3 linked regions of the Homo sapiens genome follow. The protein of the gene in region 2 purifies or fractionates together with the protein of the main gene of each other region. This does not show direct contact. Each region holds a gene or a part of one and is shown on either strand. Other genes may lie near its edges.

The links.
Region 1: the proteins of ATMIN (region 2) and SPECC1L purify together in Homo sapiens (affinity purification with mass spectrometry; 2 studies listed by BioGRID and IntAct, with this or other methods). This does not show direct contact.
Region 3: the proteins of ATMIN (region 2) and CAPN13 purify together in Homo sapiens (affinity purification with mass spectrometry; 2 studies listed by BioGRID and IntAct, with this or other methods). This does not show direct contact.

Annotation. Positions count from the first base shown.
Region 1 is NC_000022.11:24,273,744-24,281,034, reverse strand, and holds part of SPECC1L (cytospin-A), read right to left. Parts: intron 4,336-7,291; 5' UTR 4,232-4,335; intron 1-4,231. UniProt on the Homo sapiens protein: Involved in cytokinesis and spindle organization. May play a role in actin cytoskeleton organization and microtubule stabilization and hence required for proper cell adhesion and migration.
Region 2 is NC_000016.10:81,030,987-81,039,132, reverse strand, and holds the start of ATMIN (ATM interactor), read right to left. Parts: upstream 3,292-8,146; 5' UTR 3,263-3,291; coding exon 2,927-3,262; intron 2,397-2,926; exon of another isoform or gene 1-2,396. Other genes in the region: CENPN (centromere protein N), read right to left, coding at 6,439-6,563. UniProt on the Homo sapiens protein: Transcription factor. Plays a crucial role in cell survival and RAD51 foci formation in response to methylating DNA damage. Involved in regulating the activity of ATM in the absence of DNA damage. May play a role in stabilizing ATM.
Region 3 is NC_000002.12:30,804,421-30,811,744, forward strand, and holds the start of CAPN13 (calpain-13), read right to left. Parts: upstream 3,027-7,324; 5' UTR 2,882-3,026; intron 1,847-2,881; exon of another isoform or gene 1,761-1,846; intron 1-1,760.

The sequences.
Region 1 (7,291 bases), on a different chromosome or scaffold from region 2:
CTCTCTGCTTCCTGTTCCTCTGTAACAGGGGTAAACAAACCACAATCCGGGGCCAAATCTGACCCATCACTTGTCTTTTTTCAGCCCAAAAACTAAGAATGTTTTGCATTTTTAAATGGTTGGGGGAAAAAAAATCAAAAGACTATTTTGGGCTGGACACTGGCTCATGCCTGTAATCCCAACACTTTCGGTGGCCGAGTAGGGTGGAGAGCGTGAGCCCAGAAGTTCAGGAGTTCAAGACCAGCCTGGCCAACATGGTGAAACGCCGCCTCTACAAAAAAATACAAAAACTAATGGGGGGCGGTGGCAAATGCCTATAGTCCCAGCTACCTGGAAGGCTGAGGTGGGAGGATCACTTGAGCCTGGGAAGTCAGGGCTGTAATAAGCTGTGGTCATACTGCTGCCCTCCAGCCTGAGCAACAGAGTGACACTGTCTCAAAAAAAAAAAAAAAAAAAATGTTATTGAAACATAGTCACATTCATTCACATCTGTAGTGGCTGTGGTTACTTTTGCACTACAATGATGGAGTTGATTAGATGCAACAGAGACCTTAAGGTCTTCAATGACTAAAACATTTACTGTCTGGCCCTTTACAGACAGTCTGTCAATCCCTAATTTATTATATGCCTTCTTCTCCCTCAGCTAACTAATTGCCTCACCCCAGGAATGTTCATTACTACCTCTTCTTTGTTCAAGCCCCAGCTACTCCTCAAAACCCAAAATTCCCTTCTTCCCCTTTCCCAAATCCTAACCATATCAGCAGTTTGTGTGGAAGTAGGTAAGCAAAACACCATTCGTCATTATGTAAAGCAAGGCATTGGAGATGCGGTCCCTACATGTACAAGGGGAGGCTGATTACCCCCCAATTCATTTCCAATTTCTCAAAGCAGGTTGGCAGGCTAGCACCTAGGAAGGAGAGAGTGAGCAGATGATGCAGACAGAGCACTGAGAAACTCCTCAGTAACTCATGAGAGTTCATGTGTCAGTCCCCTTGTCTGCTATGTCATCCTTTAGACATCAATTCAAGACAGCAAAATTCAAAAAAGAAATGAGGAAGAAAAAGGTGATGAGGGGCAGAAGGAAAATAGAAGAGAACTTGTCACTTCACAATGTAGAGACTGTCACAAACTGTGGTGAATGGAAAACTATTCTGTTCACCTGGGCGTGGTGTCTCACGCCTATAATCCCAGCACTTTGGGAGGCTGAGGCGGGCAGATCACTTGAGGTCAGAAGACCAGCCTGAGCAACATGGTGAAACCTGGTCTCTACTAAAAATACAAAAAATTAGCCGGGCATGGTGGCACATGCCTGTAATCCCAGCTACTCGGAAGGCTGAGGCATGAAAATCACTTGAGCCCAGGAGGTGGAGGCTGCAGTGAGCTGTGATTGCACCATTGTTGCCCTACAACCTGGGCAACAGAGCTAGACCTGTTTCTAAAATAATAAATAATAATAATAATAATTAAAAAAATAAAATGTACATTTCTAACTTCATTTCAAAGTTAAGGCCAGGTGCAGTGGCTCATGCCTGTAATCCCAGTATTTGGGAGGCCGAGGCAAGGGGATCACTTGAGCCCAGGAATTTGAGACCAGCCTGTGCAAAATAGTGAAACCTTGTCTCTAAATTAAAATAAAATAAAAAGTAAACAAAGTCAAATTTTTTTTAAAAATCAGAAGAGAAACGTTGAACTGCATACTTCCAGGCCCAACAGAGTAGAGGTCAGCACAGGCGCAACCAGGTTGCATATCTACATACAATCTGCCCTGGCAGGAAGGATATCCTTTTCTTCCAGGTTTAACCACTCTAGGTGACCCAGATTATTTTAAATTATAGCGTCAACAATTTAAAGCAGCTTTTACTGTAAGGCACAATCTCAATAATTAATAGGGCAATATAATAAATACATAAAAGCTCAGGGAGAAAACAAGACTCTTGAATGGGCCTGGAAGTTTTGCCACGTCCCCCGAAGTACTCTCGGTTGCATCCTTCGGAACCTTTCAACACATATACATATACCTCCCTCATCCTTTTGTGAAGAGTGTCTATTAATCACTAGATTAAGAGGATTTGGATAAAATTTATAAACGTACAAACTGTGCTACCAAGGACTGACACATTTACTTTTCTGGCTCATCAGTTTATGTCCTAGAAAAACTCCAGATCCACATTAACCAGCTGTTTCCTATTTTACATTTTACGATGGTGTTTCCACTTTCACCTGCAAAGTGACTAATAGTAATACCTATTCCAGTAATTTAAGTAACACCATTTAGAGTAATTTCATCTTTAGTACTGTATTTATACTACTAAGAAAGCTGCCAACGATTCAAGCTGCACTCACTGGTGAAACCCTATGCTATATATGTAATTAATTTATTTCCTAAATTCTTACCTCCCTCCACCCCCTCCATTGGAAAATAAACTCTAAGAATGCAAAAGTTTTTGTGTGTTTTTCTTTAACGCTTAGAGCAGTGCCTGGCACCTAACAGTCAATATCTGCTAACTTTGATGAATGAATGGTATATTTATATTATGCAATATTACTATGCAGCCATGAAACACAATGAGTTAGAGTGGTACCAGCTAATTTAATGGAATTTCCAGAAGTATGAAATTAAGAAAACAAGAAGAAAAGTGTCAAAAATATCATCCCACTTTTTTTTTTCTTCCCTGAAACGGAGTCTTGCTCTGACACCCAGGCTACAGTATAGTGCTGCCATCATGGCTCACTGCAACCTCAAACTTCTGGGCTCAGGGAATCCTTCCACCTCAGCCTCCCATGTAGCTGGGACTACAGGTGTGTGCCACAACGCCCAGCTAATTTATTTTAAATTATTTTTTGTAGAGACAGGGTCTCCCTATGTTGCCCAGGCTGGTCTCAAACTACTAGGCTCAAGTGATCCTCCCACCTCAGCTTCCTGAAGTGTTGGGATTACAGGTGTGAGCCACTGTGCCCAGCCTAATCCCACTTTTTAAAAAGTATACCCCCAAATCCATACACTGGTGAGGAAGTGGAGAACGTGGAATCCTCATACACAGAATTTAAAATGGTACAGCTCTGGAGAACATTATAGCAGTTTCTCAAAGTGTTTAACATAGCTACTACACGACCCAGCAATTCAATTCCCAGATATACACCTGAGAGAACTGAAAGGATATGTCCACACAAAAATTTGTAGAGGAACTTGTACACACTTGTTCACAGTAGCATTATTCTTAATAGCCCAAAGTGGCAAAAACGCAAATGTTCATCAACTGATGGACAAATAAAGCATGAACAACTGATGGACAAATAAAGTATATCATTCAGCATATAAGAAATGAAGTGCTAATACATGCTACAACAGGGACAGACCTTGATAACATTTTGCTAAATGAAAAAAGCCAAACAAAAGGTCACATGTTGTATGATGCCATTTACATAAAAATACCTAGACTAGGCAAATCCATAGAGACACAAAGATCAGTGACTGCCCAGAGCCAGAGGGAGTGGTGAATGTGAAATGACTACTAATGAGTACAGACTTCTTTTTGAGGTATTGAACATGTTATGGAATCAGATGGTGGTGATCAATGCATAACTTTGTGAATATACCAAAAACCACATGAAAGGTACACTTTAAAAGCCTGAATTTTAAGGTATGTGAATTATATCTCCATAAACCTGTGATTTTGTTAATATACGCTTATTTGCAAATGAATACATGGATAATGAGGAATAATATGAAAGGTTAATGACAACCTTGGTGATAGGGTACCGGAGACTGGGAGAGGAAGATAAGTGTTGAGGTAGAAGAAGACAAAAAATAAAAGACCAAAACAATAATCCAAAGCCAGGGGCCATGAGTTGGGAGATGGAGCAAGACGAAGTGTACAAAGAAATGAGCATAAATCATAAAAATGAGGGAACTAGGGTTGAAAAACCCAGTAAGTAGTTTGTAATGGGGGAGACGAAGCAAACCTAAGTAACTGCAATGATTCAACAGAATTTGCAGAAAATGCAGAAGGGCGAGAAAAACAATGAAAAAATGGATCAGAAGATTTAAAATTGGCTCTACCCCACCAAAGTTTTAAAAAGCAAGCAAGAAGAAAATTCAGTTGCTCCTGGGCAAGAATTCTTGGGCCCAGTGGGGTAGAACCAAACCATGATAAGGAGACACCAGTGTTTTGTAAGCAAGAGAATATATTAAGGAGAGAAAAGGGGCATTTATTGGGAGAAAAGGTCTCACTGTGATTGTTCTGGAATAAAGTAGCCCCATCGGACTGCCTCAGGAACTCATGATGGAAGAGGTGCCACTGGAAAATGGCTTAGTCGGGATCTTCCCCAAGAACACTAGAAGAGAGAGAGGAAGAATAGAATAGCTTTAAATTTTAGCAGATATTTCTTTTTCTTGTTTAATTAAAATAAACCTTATTGACCTAATATTTTTGAGACTGGGCTCTTGCAATGCTGCCCAAGCTGAACTCAAACTCCTAGGCTCAAGAGATTCTCCCACTTCAGCCTCCTGAAAAGCTGGCACTACAGGTGCGCACCACTGGGTCCAGCATAATGGCTATTTCTTGACAAATCTTGACAATGCCACCAGTATGTTTTTCTTTAGAGACAGAGTCTCGCTTCGTAGCCCAGGCTGGAGAACAGTGGTGTGATCCCTAGCTCACTGCAGCCTCAAACACCTGGACTCAGGAGATCCCCCTGCCTCAGCCTCTCAAGTACCTGAGACCACAGGTGCGCACCACCACACCTGGCGAATTTTATTTTTTTTTATTATACTTTAAGTTCTAGGGTACATACACCTGGCTAATTATAAAATGTTTATCTGTACAGACAGGGTCCCGTTATGTCGCCCAGGCTGGTCTCGAACTCTCGGCCTCAAGCAGTCCTCTCCTCTTCACCTTCCAAAGCCCTGAAATATGCCCACATCCAGCCTGCCACCAGTTTCTTTGCATACTTCTTTCCTAGGCTTGACCAAGACCTTTACTTTCTTCTGTGTACAGCTCAGCATTGAAAAAAAAAAGTTTAGGCTGGGCACAATGGGTCACACCTGTAATCCCAACACTTAGGGTGGCCAAGGCGGGAGGTTTGCTTGAACCCAGGAGTTCCACACCAGCCTAGGCAAGATGGCAAGACCACGTCTCTCAAAAACAATTTTTGTAAAATTAGCCAGGTGTGCTGGTGCGGGCCTGCAGTCTCAGCTAGTGAGAAGACTAAGGCAAGAGGAACCCTTGAACCCAGGAGTTCAAGGCTACGGTGAGCTGTGATCACCTCTCCAGCCTGGGTGATAGGGTGAGACTCAGTCTCTGAAAACAACTAAAAATAAAAAAAGTTGAATAATGAGTCTTCTTTTTAGAGGCAATGTATTTTTCCTCTTTAACTTTTTGTTTTCCTTAGGCTATATGCACAATAGACAAAGTTGAAATTTAATCTTAATCTCTTAAACCCTTACTGTCCAAACACATCAAACTCAAAAAAAAAAAAAAAAGGTGAAAGGTGTACAAGAGAAAAAAGGGAAGTGATCTGTGTCAAATGTACATTCCTTCCACAATTTGGGATAAAAATGATGCCTACCTGGTCTCTGGGTGCCAAAATAAGACATTAGAGACACTCCCCTCCTTCAAGAAATAAAATTGGAATCAGACACTAAGGTACAATTAAACAGACTTTGAAAAGTTGGTACGCACTACTGGGAGGTGTCTCACAGCTGTCAGGGTCAAGTGCAACTAGAATAAAAGCTCCTAAGGGCAGAAACTAAGTGGCTCACTTCCTCTGTAACACTGCCGTGCCCAGCACTGTACCAGCACCCCAGCAGAGTCAACAACTTTCTGTCAAGCCACACACTTACGGTCTCATTGTCCAGTGGAGGCCGCAGACGAGACATAGTGTGCCAAATCCCAAATGCACAGGGTGCCAGACAAGTCTGCAGGAGGCAGGAGGACTAGGGAAGCCTTCCAGGCAAGGTGATGCCTGAGCTGAGTTGTTTTTCTTTTGAGTTTGGAACATTAATTTAATCGGAGGAAAACAAGGGACATGAAAAGGGCAAGGAAATAAGAAAATGAGCTGAGTTTTGAAGGCAATGATCAGATGAAGTGAGAGAAGAATATTCCAGCAGAGGGAGACAAGGAGACTGCAGAGATTTCAAGGGGCCAAGAGCTGTTCAGTGCAGCTCAGTGAAGCACCTAAACAGAGGTAGGGGAAGGAGAACAGGGGTCAAAGCCCAGTATTGAAGTGTTCTGGATACCAAGCTAAGGAGACCTTATTACGAAGGTACTGGGGCTGCTGAAGGGTTTAAATGGGAAAGTGATTGTGAACAGATTAATAGTTTGGAAAGATACAGGCAGAAGTAAACCTCTGGATTTAACCAAAAAATAAAGGACAGAACCACAATGAAGATGTTTGGAAAAGATCAGGAAAAACACTGTTAAAAGATATTCACTCTCTTCTCTTATTTACAGATTTCCTTTATGGAATACCAAATTATTCTTTGAAAATAGAGAACTCAGAAGTGGCTGAGAGCAGTCAGTCAGTCTTCAGAATGTAAAAACTACTATTCTGAAGAAGTAGATATTACATTATTAATTTCATTTCAAGATGCTTTAAAAACGTGCCTTTTGATACACTGCAGGTTTTTTAAGAGTATGTCACAATAACTCTAAATCTTACTTGAAATTAATAGAAGAGCACTATAAATTTTAAAGGCTTCACAGACACAGGGATCATCTGTTATGTTCACTTTGGAACAGATCATAATTGTCCCTCCCTCTCAACATACCCAAAATACGTTGTTTAAGGCTACTTTCCTAATGGTCATGTTATTTCACAGTAAAAGACTGAGGTCACAATGATTTCTGAGCTGACAGAAAACCCCATGGGGGTTCTTTACCTCGCATCTAGTCTATTCAGTACTAACAATTCCAACCACCAGAAAGAATTTCCCTGCCTAGGCTTATTTGTTGGCACAACACAAAAAAATCTCCTGGGGCTGGGTGAGGTGGCTAGTGCCTGTAATCTCAGCACTTTGGGAGGCCAAGGCAGGCGGATCACCTGAGGTCGGGAGTTCCAGACCAGCCTGACCAACATGGAAAAACCCTGTCTCTACTAAAAATACAAAATCAGCCAGGGGTGGTGGCACATGCCTGTAATCCCACCTACTTGGGAGGCTGAGGCAGGAGAATCGCTTGAACCTGGGAGGCGTAGGTTGCGGTGAGCGGAGATCATGCCATTAGACTCCAGCCTGGGCAACAAGAGCGAAACTGTCTCAAAAACAATTATATCTAATAAAAAAGATCTATTT
Region 2 (8,146 bases):
CAGTACTTTGAAAACAGGTATCAACATTGATGTTTGAGGCCTGGCGCAGTGGCTCACTCTTGTAATCCCAGTACTTTGGGAGGCTGAAGCGGGCGGATCACTTGAGGTCAGGAGTTCAAGACCAGCCCGACCAACATGGCGAAACCCTGTTTCTACTAATAAAACAAAAATTAGTCGGGCGTGGTGGAGCATGCCTGTAGTCCCAACTACTCGGGAGGCTGAGGCAAGAGAACTGCTTGAACCCGAGAAGCGGAAGTTGCAGTGAGCCGAGATCATGCCACTGCACTCCAGTCTGGGCGACAGAGTGAGACTGTCTCAAACAAACAAACAAAAAGAACAATGTTTGAGGCAGGGCATGGTGGCAGGAGCCTATAGTCTCAGCTACTGGGGAGGCTAAAGCAGGAGGATCACTTGAGCTCAAGAGCCTGACAGCAACCTGGGTTAACAGAGCAAGACCCTGAAAAGCCTTCTATGTAGTAACCAGACAAGGTACAGATCTCCATACTGGGCACCATCATATAGATGGCTATTGCATCACACAGACAACCTTCATTAAAGGAAGACACCAAGACAGGAGCTGCTCAGGGGCCACTGGGCACTGCGGTTAGAAAGCCAGGACAAGACAGGAAAGTCAGTCTGCTTGTCAAGAAAAAAATGATGGATCTGGTGAGGTATAATTCCTGCTAAAAAAAAGTTTGCCCTGGCTGGGCACAGTGGCTCACACCTGTAATCCCAGCCCTTTAGGAGGCTGAGGCGGGTGGATCACTTGAGGTCAGGAGTTCGAGACCAGCCTGGCCAACATGGTGAAACCCCACCTCTACTAAAAATACAAAAATTAGCTGGGCGTGGTGGTATGCACCTGTAATCCCAGCTACTAGGGAGGCTGAGGCAGGAGACTCGCTTGAACCTGGGAGGCAGAGGTTGCAGTGATCCAAGATGGCGCCACTGCACTCCAGCCTGGGCGACAGAGTGAGACTCTGTCTCAAACAAAACAAAAAAAACCCAACATAATTAGAAACAAACCTACTGTATACTAACCAGTCCTGAAAGGCAAATGGTATCTTTATGTTCAACAGATGTTTACCAGGGTCTTTAAAGAGCTAGAGCTCCTAACAACAACTCCACAGAAAGGAACAACAGAAACTATTAAGAAATAGTTCATCCACCTAAGTTATGATTAAATAAAGGATTTAGGTCGGTCGCGGTGGCTCACACCTGGAATCCCAGCACTTTAAGAGGCTGAGGTGGGTGGATCACCTGAGGGTCAGGAGTTCGAGACCAAGCTGGCCATCATGGTGCAACCTGTCTTTACTAAAAATACAAAAAAAAATTAGCAGGGTGTGGTGGCAGGTGCCTGTAATCCCAGCTACTAGGGAGGCTGAGGCAGGAGAACTGCTTGAACCCCGGAGGCAGAGGTTACAGTGAGCTGAGATGGCGCCACTGCGCTCCAGCCTGGGTGATGGAGTGAGACTCTGTCTCAAAAACAAACAAAAAAACACAAAAACAATAGGGAAGAAAAGGATTTAGTTAAAATTTAGTATGAAAACAAAACAACAGGTTGAAAGCCATTCCCAGAGTTACACTTGAGTGCTGAAAGAAACCCAGAGCTTTTCAGTCCAACAATTCGGCCCCACCTGCACGGTCTTCCTCAGCATACCTCAGGTACATTTCCTGACTGGCTCCCTGATCTTCAATTGAGAACGTTGTTGCATCCCGGTTTAGATGGTGGTAAGAGCAGATCACTCTTCATTGGCGACACATCTGTCCTACTAGAGACTACAACCTCAGAGTTTTCTGCTGTGAAATTCTTATCAGAAGCCTGACTATGGGCAGACAGAACATGCAATATTCTGGGTACTCTAAATTTACTCCTGATCATCAAAAGCTACATATTCGCAGAACTGCTTTCAATGACTTGCGCTTTTGAATTATGTCACTGCTGGCCTAGAGTGGTGGAAGGAAACTTGCCATTGTAATGACTGAGAGATTGTGACTTAACAGGTCCGGGGTGGGGCTGGACATCTGGATTTTTAATAAGCTTGTCACAGATGTGTCCCAAGGTTGAAAATGACTGCCCTGTTTTGCATAACGTGGAGGGTTGTTGAGACTATTGTCATGGTGTATTTACTGTGTCCCCCTCTTAAAGAAGAGCCACAGGGGCAATTTCCCTTAGGTCTCAGTCCTGAGCTGATCTTACCAACACCGTGAAACTGACTGATGGTGTTTAGAGGCAAACCTACCGCTCCTTTAAAACATTTTTTTATTCATAATCGACACACAGTAATTATTCCTACTGATGGGGTGCGGTGTGCAGCATGGATGGACATATACATTGCATAGTGATCAAGTCAGAGTGTTTAACATGTCCTCGACCTCAAACGTATTGTCTCTTGGTGGTGAGAACATTTAAAACCCTCTCTTCTAGTTATTGTGGCACATACAGTCCACTGGGCAGGACCCAAGGGCGGCATTGTGGGTGTCGTGGCAAGCACAGGGCTTTAGAACCAGAGGCCCCGGTTTAAAGCCCCGCATCATCTAGGTTGCATAATCTGTTTCTCATTAATATAATGGAGACGATGCGTCCCTCGCCAAAACGCCGTTAAGAACTCACAGGCAAAAAAGTGTAAAAAGCCTGGGCCGGCGTCCGGCACGACACTCGGGGCCAGGGAGCCAGGGAACCAGGGAACTGGCGCGTACGGCGGACCCGGGGCTCCCAGCTCCTCCTCCCCCCCAGAGGCCGCACCTGCGGCGCCTGCCGCGAGGGTTCGAGAGCCGCCTCCGGCCGGGGAGGGCAGAGGCCGGTGGGGCAGCGGCAGCGGCAGCGCGCAGGGCGCTCGTCCCCCCGAGGCCGGCTTCGCGCGCCGGCGCCGGGCGCTTTGTTGGAGCCAGGCCCGGCCCCCCGGGCCGCCGGCCGCGTCGGGCTCACCTGCAGGCGGTGGCTCTTGACTAGGTGCATGTTGAGCGCGGGGCTGTTGGGCAGGATCTTGCCGCAGCCGCGCACGGTGCACAGGATGTTGGTCCGCACGGCCCGGGACAGCTCGCTCACCGACGGCTGGATCAGCTCCCCCGCCGGCGGCGCGGGGACAGCGGGCTGCTGCGTCGCCCCCGCGGGCCGCGGCCGGCTGCCCCTCAGTCGGGGTCCCGGGGGCACCCACGGGCCCGAGGCGGCGGCGGCGGCTCCTGTCGTGGCCGCCGGGACGGCCCGGGCACCCGCCGCCAGAGCCGCGGACCCCGCCGCCGCCGCCGCCTCCGAGGCCGCCATGGCTCCCGCACGGCCGCCCGGCCCAGTTCGTAGGCCCCGCCCCCGCCGCAGCCACTTCCGGCAGGGGGCGAGGCCGCCAGGCTTGTTAGCATCCGGCGGGCCCAGGCGGCCGCGGCGCCCCCTGCCGGCCGCGGAGGGCGCGCCTTGGAGGGAGAGGACTTTAGGTGACGCCGCCAGGAGGCGAAATTTCACCTGCCAGCAGGTAAAAGGTATTGCCCCGCCTCTCTAATCGATCCATTCTTCCTAGGAAAGTGACTTCAGGCAGTAGTCACATAAAAGAAAAAGCAATACGTTGAGCAATGCGTTTACTTCCCAAAGATTAGAAACAACCCAAATGTCTAGTGGCAGGTGAGGCAGAAGTACACTGATTTCCGCCGTTGTTTATTACCTAGGCCTTACTGGGTACCAGGTGGGTCTGGTGGATGCACTTTTCATGCTGTGTCTCATTTTGTCTTCAAAACGACTGTAGCGGGTATGTACTGTAACTTGCCCCACCTTGTGCAGAGAAGGACATTTAGGCTTATATAAATTAAGTAACTTGACCTAGACCACACTATACAAATGAAAAGATTGTTATTATTGATAGGATTAATCATTTTAAGAAGGCTGGATTTGCTTGCTTCTATTTTAGCTGCTGAAATTAGGATTACTGTTTGGGAGACACTGCAGTTCAGTATACGATTACAAAACTTAATACTTAGACTGGGTAGTTCATGTAAATGGACATAGGAGGCTGGGGTAGACAAAAGGGAGGGGTGAGGACTGCAGTGAAATTGGAAACACATCCTTTATTAAAAGGGGGCAGCTGCTACTCATCTTTGGTATGGCTAGAGTTTTATGTGAAAATTTCCACCTTTTACATACTAGCAGCTATATTCGTTTTCTCTTGCTATTAATAAATTACCACAAACTTACTGCCTTAACACAAATTTATTATCTTCCAGCTCTGGAGGTCAAAAGAAATGAGACTGCTGGGCTAAGATCAAGGTGTCAGCAGGGCTGTATTCCTTCCCAAGGCTCCAGGGGAGAATCTGTTCACTTGCCTTTCCCAGCTTCTAGAGGTTGCCTACATTCCTTGGCTTGCGGACCCTTCCTCCATCTCCAGAATCAGTAACGGTGAGTTGAGTCTTCGTCACATCACATCACTCTGATTTCTTCAGTAGTGATCCCTCTGATTCTTCTATTCTTGAGGCCCCCTGTGATGACATTGGGCCCATTCAAATCATCCAGGATAATTTCTCCAACTGCCAAGTCCCTTTGCCTTGCAAGATAACTGTGATAATGTGAAGTATATATTTGGTCTTTGTCCTGGCATGCAATTCCTAAAATCCTTGGAATCAGCAAATTGGTGTTTTTTTGTATGCTAATTAGTTGACTGATGACTCACAGTCCCTAGGTAGCTTTAGGATGGGACTGGTCACTGGAAAGACCAAGGTAGGATTAGAGGCTTGAGACTTTCAGCCCTCCCCCTCAACCTCTGGGGAGGAGACAGGGGCTGAAGCTTAAGCTGATCAATCATTCCTAGGTAATGAAGCCTCCATAAAATCCCAAAAGAAATGGGTTTGGAGAACTTCCAGATAGCTGAATGCATGGAGTTTCCTGGAGGGAGGCGCACTCAAAGAGGGCATGCGTGGAAGCTCTTGCCCTATGCATCTTTTCATCTGAATCCTTTGTAACATCCCTTGTAAGAAGTCAGTCTATGTGTCTTCCTGAGTTCTGTGAGCTGCCCTAGCAAATTAATTGAACATGAAGAGAGGGTTGTGGGAAATGCAATTTATAGCTGGTTAGTCAGAAGCGCAGGTGAAACAACCTGGGGCTGGCAACTGGCCTCAGAAGTGGGTGGCAGTTTTGTGGGACTGAGCCCTTAACCTATGGGGTCTGATGATATCGCCAGGTAGTTAGTGTTGGAATTGAACTGGAGCATACCCAGCTGGTATCTGCTGTAGAACTGATTGCTTATGTCAACCAAGAAGAGGTGAAAGGGCCAGGCATGGTGGCTCACGCCTGTAATCCCAGCACTTTGGGTGGCCGAGGCAGGGCGGATCACGAGGTCAAGAGATCGAGACCATCCTGGCCAACATGGTGAAACTCTGTCTCTACTAAAAATACAAAAATTAGCCGGGTGTGGTGCGCACGCCTGTAATCCCAGCTACTCAGGAGGCTGAGGCAGGAGAATCGCTTGAACCCAGGAGACGGAGGTTGTGGTGAGCCAAGATCGCACCACTGTACTCCAGCCTGGTGACAGAGCAAGACTGTCTCAAAAAAAAAAAAAAAAAAAAGAAGAGGTGAAAGACCACACTGCAAAGCAGTAAGACAAGGCATTTTTTTTTAATTAAAAAAAAAAAAAAGAAAAGAGACAGGGTCTCGCCATTTTGGCCAGCTTGGGGTCAAGTGATCCACCTGCCTCGGCCTCCGAAAGTGCTGGGATTATAGATGCAAGTTACCACGTCCAGCCAAACAAGGCATTTTGATTGGGGTCTTAGAAATTACAATTTGGGAGACACAGATTCACCTAGAAGCCAAATGGGGTTCTGAAAAGAGGGAGAGAAGTAGATGTTTTTAAAAGAAAGCAGAGGGTTAATACACAAATTGTTTTGAAAGAATTATCATTGGTGGAGGTGGCTGGCTTAGTACATGAATCCATAGTTGATTGGTTGCCGCTGTTCAGGAGTTGTAGCACTGGTGAAATTCAGTTTTCCAGGATGTAGTGGTTATTGCAGTTTTGGCCCAGTTCAAAGCTTCAAGGCAAGTTCATATTTTTTGTTTTTGTGTTTTGCAAGTTGCAGATTGTGCAGGCAGTCCTTCTTAGAATGGCTTCCCAACTCCATTTTAGAGCTCTGAACCAAAGTGATGCCATTTTGTGTATCACTTTTCACATTTTCCTTTTTTGATCAAGATCCGAGGCAGCATAGCTGATTAATCATTGGTTGGTTGGCCACAGATTAGTTATCTGTTCCCCTTAGAGCTAGAAGCACCTGTGTCTAGAGTGTTATGTCCCACAAAAAGTGGTTGTCAAGTCAGTGCACATCCAAGCTTCCAAGATTGGTCAAATTTGAGTAACAAAGGGTCCATTTTAACAAGGAGGCCTGCATTAGTCTATAGCAGTTAGCTGTATATCAGGAGAGACATACATTTGATTAACCATTTAAATGTCTAAATGTTGTGACATCATGATTTTAACATCTTGGATACAATGGGACAAACAGAAGGTACAAGTCCTTCTGCCAGCTGCTCGGGTCCTGGGTCCCTTGACTGTGGCTTCCAGAATAGCAGAGCAGCTTTTGGATCCTGCAAACAAGTGCTAAAAAAAAAAAAACACTGAAAATCAACTGATAAAAGACGGATTAATAGGAGAAAAGACATACAAGTTTTATTAACGTGCCTGGTGGGGAGGGGAGGCATCAGAGTGATGATTCCCCAACCCCCAATGGGGTGTGGACGCTTATATACCCTTTTTCATAGGAGAGTAAGGAGATGGGGAACGTGTGTAATTCTTCTGAGGAGCAGTAAATTATTATAAGGGAGAGTAAATGGACCAGGGAGACAGAAATTAACTTGTAAATGATTCTCTTTGGAATCTGAATGAGCCTGAGGGGCAGGCCTTATGAAAAGGTCCATCCATATGTGGCTCTATTCCTCAGTCTTCATTTTTTGATAGATAATGAGATTTGAAGGACAGAATAGAAGGCAACTGTGTTTCTTTTAGTAAGAAGCTTTCTTAGTCAGACAAGGAAATTCCAGAGGGAGTTCCTCTCTGCCCTTGGTTGAGGCAAGAATAAGACAAGGTTGGAGGGACCTTGACTCTCAAGTGTATTTCTCAGGCCTTTCCATTTTCAAAAGCATCCAGCATGCCAAAGTACCATCATTTTCTGTGCCTCAATATTCCCTAGTCTGAAATTTCCCTAGTAGTTTCACAAATGAAACAGTGAGTTGGCCATGAAGAGAAAAATCAAGTTAAATAGAATTTTGGCTGGGCACTGAGGCTCACACCTGTAATCCCAGCACTTTGGGAGGCCGAGGCGGCAGGATCACTTGAGGTCAGGAGTTTGAGACCAGTCTGACCAACATGGTGAAACCCTGTCTCTACTAAAAATACAAAAATTAGCTGGGCATGGTGGCACGTGCCTGTAATCCCAGCTACTGGACAGCTGGCAACCAAGGACGTTGGATAAAGAACCTCAACCAAGGTAGGGGGTTAAGGAATGAGACAACTCGTAAACAGAATCCGTGGCCATGGGAGAGGTGTGGAACACAAGGGGTTCCTCCTGCAGGAACTGTGCTCGAATCCGTGGCCGCACCAGAACAAAGAAGGGAGTTGCTTTTTTGTCCCACTCAATTCTGACACCATTTAATGTCATCCAAGGGGCAAAAGACCACACTGCAAAGCAGCAAGACAAGGTGTTTTTATTGAGGTCTTAGGAATTGCAATTTGGGAGACAGATTCAGCTAGAAGCCACTTGTGTTCTGAAGAGAGAGGGTAGAGGAGGGGTTTTTAAAAAAAGCTGAGGGTGATTAGACAAGTTGACAAGTTGTTTTGAAAGAGGCAACTGGCTTAGTACAAAAATCCATAGTTTATTGGTTGGTGCTGTTGAGGAGTTGTAGTGCTGGTGAAATAAAATTTTCCAGGATGCAGTGGTCATCGCAATTTGGCCCAATTCAAAGGTTCAAGGTAAGCTCCTGTATTGTTTTTTTTTTGGAGCTTTTAATTTTTTTTCAAGTTGCAGGTCATGTAGGGAGTCCTTTTTAGAATGGCTTCCTCCCTCCATTTTAGAGCTCTGAACCAAAGTGATGTCATTTATTTTATTTTATTTATTTATTTTTTAAGATGGAGTCTCACTCTGTCACCTAGGCTGGAGTGCAGTGGTGCAGTCTCGGCTCACTGCA
Region 3 (7,324 bases), on a different chromosome or scaffold from region 2:
TCGAACTCCTGACCTCAGGCAATCCGCCCACCTCGGCCTCCCAAAGTGCTGGGATTACAGGCGTGAACAGAGCCTTTTTAAGTAAATTGGAATCATAACTCTCTGAGGAGGGAAGAGTAGGAGGCAACATTCATCCAAATATTTGATCATAAATGCTTTATATCAAGGAGCCCCCAGCAACAGCCCCCAAAATTAGTGTTCTATGTATACCATGCTTTAGGAAACACTTGACCAAAAGATAGAGTCCCAAGGGTGGTAGAAAATCAACACCTCCTCTTGATTCTGCTCCCATCTTTTGCATGGCCGTGGACTTCCTTGCTGTCTATCAGTGGCATGCTCCACCATGGACGTTCTGAGAGAGTTAGGATGCCCTCAACCTGACTTCTTCCAAACCTTGAGGAGAGATGGAATGGACCAGCCTATCCAAAGTCCCCTTTATGGTTTTCTCATGGGAGAAAGAGGTGACATCTAGGCAGGAACATTAGTGCTGTACGCAGTGTTCAGCAGATATTAATGATAATTCAGTCTTTATTAAACCTTTCTTAGGTGCCATCTCAGGTTCTCTTAGCCTCAACCTGTCTCTAGGACTCTTGGTCCCTTTTTTACTCCAGCCAAGGAAGTGGCTCTTCTGACCACTTCTGGACTCAGATGAGGTGCCAAGCCTCTAGCAATTAGATCTAGTTTTCCCAGTGGCTGCCACAGGGGTCAGAAGACACAAGCTGGAAGTGCAGGACAGTTAACTCCCCATAGGGCAAGCTTTGAACAATAAGAGAGGAGACAGAGTGAGCCAACATATAAATGTCCTCTCTACCCTTGCTCGGATAGACTCTTCCAAGGCACAATGCATCTGCAACGCCAGTCCAGAGGGGCCCTGCTTTGGCCAAGTGGCTGGTCATGTCTCTTTGTGAAGAGAGGCCAGGTGGTGGCACATCATCCCTCACTGCTTCCCCTTTTTCTCTTCCCATTTCCCACTTCCCTGACTCTCACTCCCCTGGTGTCTTACCTTAAGTGCTAAGTAGCACTTAAGCTTTGCCTCAGGCTTTGTTTTATAGAGAACCCAGGCTAAAATAATGTCAACAATAATGACTAAAATATCTTCAGCACTTGCCATGTGCTCAAGTACTGCTAAGTGCTTTCCATATAGGATCTCATTTGATCCTTTCACTGATCTTTTGGGGTAGATTACTGTTGCTACCATGTCTTAGTGATGAGGAAACTGGGACCCCCAAGAGGTTAAGGAGCATGCCCCAAATCACACAGCTCACCATATGGAAGCATCAAGCACAATGCTTGATACGGAGTGAGCCTCAGGGCCAGTAGGTTGGTCTTTTTTTTTTGAGACAGGGTCTTGCTCTGTCACTCAGGCTGGAGTGCAGTGGCATGATCATAGCTCACTGAAGCCTCAACCTCCTGGGCTCAAGCAATCCTTTCACCTCAACCATGGACCCCTCCCCCTGCCTCCAATAGCTGGGACTACAGGTGTGCACCACCACATGTAGCTAATATTTTTTCCCAGACCCCCAATTTTTAATTTATTTTTGTAGAGACAGGGTTTCACCATGTTGCCCAGGCTGGTCTTGAACTCCTGGGATCAAGCAATCTGTCCACCTCGGCCTCCCAAAGTGTTGAGATTACAGGTGTGAGCCACAGTGCTTGGCTTAATGTGTGCATTTCTTCATAGCATCTTTTCTTCTAAGGTGTTCTTTCAAGAGGGTAACTGAATACAACCAAATAACTAGGGGACAAGACAGGGTACCTACCAGGCACAGCAGAACTCCAGCTCTGTCATTTGCATCTGGTATAAACTTTTGCAGCAAGTCACTCACCGGTCCCTCACTTTTTCCATCTACAAAATGGGATAATGAACTCATGCTATATATAGCTTTTGCCTATTACACAGTTGGTAGATTATTACATTTCCATCAACCAATCTACTAATAAGTAAGCCTCCCTACAGCTGTCACTCCTCCAACCTTCAAAATAACAACAACAACAACAACAACAACAAAAACCCACAATACTTATGTCAAGGTGGGTACAAAGGTGAGACAATTCAAGAGGATAATCTGATTGAAAGTCTAGTTAATGCCACTCGGGGGTAACCAAAGTTGTGTTTGTGACCCAGGACAAATGGGACAGTCAGTAGTTCATGACCCAACTGTAACTATAGAGGGAAAATATCTGCACTTATTCTAATCTGGTTAACTTGGGTCCAAGCTGAGCAGCTGGAACTGTCTCCCTGAGAACAGCATCACATCTCAAAGATTACATAACTTTAGCAGTTACAGAGACACATGTGTGTGACCATGACACCACTAGAGGCATATAGGAACCTCCTGAATCTCTGAAGTTGTAATGATCTGTCTTTTGTGATTAACCCAGAGTTGTCAACTTCATTCCTATAACTAATAAGCTAGATGATTAGAAAACAAAGGGCCCAGGTCCCATTCTTCCCTTTAGCAAATGTTTATTAAGCACCTACTATCTAACAGAAACTACACATCAGTGCACAAAGAAGACATGATTTCTGCCATCAATGTGTCCCTTACGGTGAACACAGCCCTCAAGGTCACAACTTAGAATGATCAGAAATCGAAGGTGACAGAATGATTAAGAAATACTCTCTTTGCATGAAATATGCAAAGTTTGGATTAGATTCTCTTAGAAAATTAACTCCCACTTTGCCCTAGTTTTTCTTAAAGCATATCCTTGGACCACCTGCATCAAAAAAACCCAGCTTCCAGAGCTACTGAATATGTACCTTGGGAGGTGGGAACTCAGAAGCGACATCATGAAGCTCTCTAGAAAATTGTACATGCTCACTAATGTTTAGAGGACTGCCTTGGTCCACAGCTCTGGGACATGACCACGCACAACTTACCTGTTTCCTAGGCAGGTGTGTCTGATGGAGGAGGGGAGACGGGCAGGTTCCACAGGCTCTCAGGTTAGAGAGTGGTGGAGGAGACTGGCAGAGGAGGAGAGCATGGCCGGCCGTCTTGGAGAAAGAGCAGTGCTGGTGTCTGCTTACTCCTGACCTCAGGCTTTTCCTTATATGGGTGTACCAGGTAAAGGCAGGCTCCACCTTCGTTAAACAGTGACTTCAGCATTGGGCAGTGGCCTGCCACCTCTTGGAGAGAGAGAGGACATTGAATGTAAACAGCAACAGCTTCCAGATTCTCCGCCCCAAGCCTATCTCTGCCTTATCCCACCTCACTTCCTGGGGCCCCTAAGCTGCCCGTTTCTTGGCTCTTGCAGTTTTCATTGTTTCCAGATATTTAAGTTTCTTTATCTTTATTCTGCTTCAGGGAATTTGTGTTTTGTTTTGGTTTGTTTTACAAAACCCCTCTGCTGAGAAAAGACTGAGGGAAGCAACCTTCCTTCAGGCCTCATTCTCATACAGGAAAGTACAATTGCCATGTCTCCTGCATCAAGAGTGGCCACTCCACGTCAATCATATCACATCTCTTTCTACTAGACGCAGTATCTTCTTTCTACAAATACATTGTAGAACACATTAACTCCTGGGCATGGCGAGACCCAGGGAAGGTCTCTGCATCATCCCTGCTTGCTGGATGGGGCAGAAAGAGATGAGGCGTGTAAAGTGCATGTTTCCTGTTCTCAAATCCAAGGGGCTATTTGCTTTTCTGGCATCTTTAATTCCTTGATGTTCTTCATCCCCATTCATAAGTGCTCTTTAGAAGCCAGTTCCAGAACCCTGATCGCATGGCACACCCTATGCTATAGGCAATAATGATAAAATAGGTAAAACAGGGAAACAATGTGGAAATCACCAAAAACTGTTATGACTGGTCCATTCCCAAATTCTGATGAGTAGAAAGGGATATTTGGCACATGAATGAAGAATCTGAGAAGCTGGAAAGTATGGATATGAGTTTTAACCCCAGTTTTGCAACTTTTGGCTGTGTGACCTGGGCAAGTCCCTTCCCATCTTAGTCTATTAATCCGTGAGCTGAGGATTATGATGCTTACCCTGTCTGCCTTGTGTTTGTTTAGTGGGATTCCTGCATCCCAGCGGACACCTTCTATTAGAAATTTCACTATAAATACAGTAAACAATACACACACACACACTATTGCATAAACATCATCAGTGAATAAATACGCAGATATCTGTGGTGCATGTTCAAAATGATTTTACTAATAGAGCATGCAATGAAAAATGTTGGAAAGCCATAGTTTCAGAAAAAAATGGTGAGAAAATGCTTCAGAAAGCCCTACCCACAAGGATATATCACAAGACAGTGTCTCAAGAAAATTAATTGGGAGTTTTCTTGCTTATTGATGATGGTTTTGTCATCTCCCATCTCTAAAAATATATTTTTCCCCCTAAGAGTGGGAGCTGTTATCCCCAGAGCAGTCTTTGGGAGTACTGAGTTAAAAAGGGAAACAGCTCCCGATGGAGTGTTCTAGGTGCCAAGAAACAAGCCGCTCTGGGTGATAATTGTGCCGGAAGAATGGCTTAGGTGAGGGACCCTGTCAAGAACACCTGTGCACAAATCCCAGGGGCTGTTTTCTTTTCTGGCATCTTTGATTCTTTGGTGTTCTTCCTCCCATTTATAGGTGCTCTTTAGAAGCCAATTCTCAGTGATTTGTTTTTTCCAGAGAATTCCAGCCGAAGGCTATAAACTGGGCAACACCTAACAGTAAGTTCTTAGCTGGACTTGCTCCAACTCTGAAGGCCGTGTGGCATGCCCCTTAAATGCTTCCAATGCCTTTCTGGCATTCCCTGCTGAGCACTGCATAGCTGCCCTGAGATGCAGTCCTTTGCGGCATGCATGGGACCCACCACAGCCCTCCTCTCCCTCTGAGTCTCGATCTCCTTCACTGTATGTGATGGCTTCTGTGTCACGGAGCCCCACTGGGGCCTCCCCTGCCACTACCTGTGTCTACCAAATACACTGATCCTGCTATGGCTGTCCAAGCCTGGCCTGTGAGGGCTGTTCTTCGAGTGCCAACTGTGGGTGTAGGAAATGCCGTCATTGCCATTGTGCTGTGGCCATACCTGCACTTCCTCTGCCACGCCATGACTGCCCCTGATGTGACTGGCTCCTGCACTCATGCCGCTGACATTTAGTGCTCAGTGTCCTAAAGAAATGCAAAGAAATAGCTCTTTTTTTGCAATCACTTCGAGCCAGAAGAAAACTGGAGCCAGACTAGGCTCAGGGTCCCCGTCCTCCCCTTATGAACCTAGGCTACAGTCCTTGAACCAATCTTGCCCACAGGGAGACCACCTTCTCTGAGAGAGACTTCTTTCTCCAGAGACTCCTTACTCAATCATGTCAACACACTCCTGAGTGCTCCCACTCACCAACCTGTAGCCATGCCTCAGAATACCCAGATCTTGAGAGACATAACTCTTCCTCTCTCCTTCCTTCCCCTTCTCCTTTCTGTCTTCTTCCCCCAACCCCACTGTTCTGTCTCCCTCTCTGCCTCTCCAACATTCTCTTACAAACTGTTTCTCATGCCATGTTGCCAGGCACTGCACCAGGCTCAGGGAACACAGCAGCAGGTCCAGCGGACACACAAGCCCAGTGGACTTAGAATCTAGTGAGAGACACACATGAAACCAATAACCACAAAAGCAGCCAGATTATTTCTCTTGCAATTAGTGCTATGAAGGGGATTTGCAGGTTCTAGGAGACACCCAAACAGGAAAAAGTAGGCAGTGCCTCCACTGAGGAGTCATGAGACGCCCTCCTGGGGAGTGAAGGATGTGGGGAGCCAGCCAGGAGGAGAGGGTCGAGGAGGAGGCTGTGGTGAGACTGGTAAGAATGTGCAAATCCTGTGTACAGCTTGATAAATGTTCACAAAGGAAACCCAAGTTACCGGCATCCAGATTAAGAAACACCATTACCAGAACCCAGAAGCTCCTTTGCACCCTTTCTCATAATGTCCTTTGGTTTACCCTCAAGGTAAACTGTCCTGAGTCAGTTAATTTTGAAAAGCCTTATCCTCTTTTCCTTTATAAGAAAACAAACCCTGTGTTGACTTAGGGAATTAAATCAAATGACCCTGTAAAATATCACAAAGGGGACTGTTTTGGCAGGGGAAACAGGTATACAGAGTGTTTACCACATGGTTAAATGGATCATTTAGCAGATTTCATGTACATTTCATGTATTTGTACATTCCCCTGTGGGTGGAAATAGCAAAGTCAACAAAGTGCAGTGATTTTTATTAATGCCGAAAAGTATGAAGTGCCTGGAGGTCACCCAGCTTGAGTTTGCTGTGCCATGGCTGCCAGCTAGGCAGATTACAAACTACCAAGTCAAGCCCAGGCCTATTACACCCCGGTTCCTTCTTGTGCCCTGGGGGACAGAACCCCAGCAAAAGCCAGAGTTTCCATTCTTATGCATAGATGAGAACACAGAGTGTGTGTGCGTGGTGGGGCAGCAGGAGGCGTGGAGGCAAGAGGAACATAAGGAAGCCAGAGATGGTTTAAAAATGAGTGATGTTCCTTATTATAAAATACTCATCACAGGCTGGGTGCAGTAGCTCACGCCTGTAATCCCAGCAGTTTGAGAGGCTAAAGCGAGTGGATCACTTGAAGTCAGGTGTTCAAGACCAGCCTGGGCAACATGGTGAAACCCCGTCTCTACTAAAAATACAAAAATTAGCCAGGTGTGGTGGTGCATGCCTGTAATCCCAGCTACTCAGGAGGCTGGGGCAGGAGACTAGCTTGAATCTGGGAGGCAGAGGCTGCAGTGAGCTGAGATCACACCACTATACTCCAGCCTGGGTGACAGAGCAAGATTGTCTCAAAAAATAAAATACAATAAACAAAATACTCATCACAGAAACTTTTGAAAAATTATTTAAAAGTTAAAAAATAACCATAATCTTATACTCAGAGATAATGATTATTTTTCGTCTTCCTTTTTCTAGACACAGCCACACATAATGCAGACATTTCAGTCACTGGCGCCTACAAGTGCTTGCAAGAGATGTCGACTCAGTGCTCACGTTCTGAATGCACTGGCTTGGAGCCCTTTCCCAGCTGATGCAACGTCTCCCCCTGGGAATCTCTGGGAAGCCCCGAGAGTGTCTGCTGGTTGTCCACCGAACATCTTCTGCATTCCATTAGGCATTGTGGTCTCTGGGGGACACTATACCTTCTCTAAGGGAGCTCTGTCCTCCCTAGGGTTATGAACTCTTGATTGACCTCTCTCTATTGTCTCTAGCCCTAGTTCTTCCACTCCCAAATAGCTTCTCAGTGTCCCTCTCCCATGCAAATCACTTGAGCAAATATATGCCCCCAAAGCAAGTGTTTAGAATACCAAGTCTCAGCTGGGAGTGGTGAGGG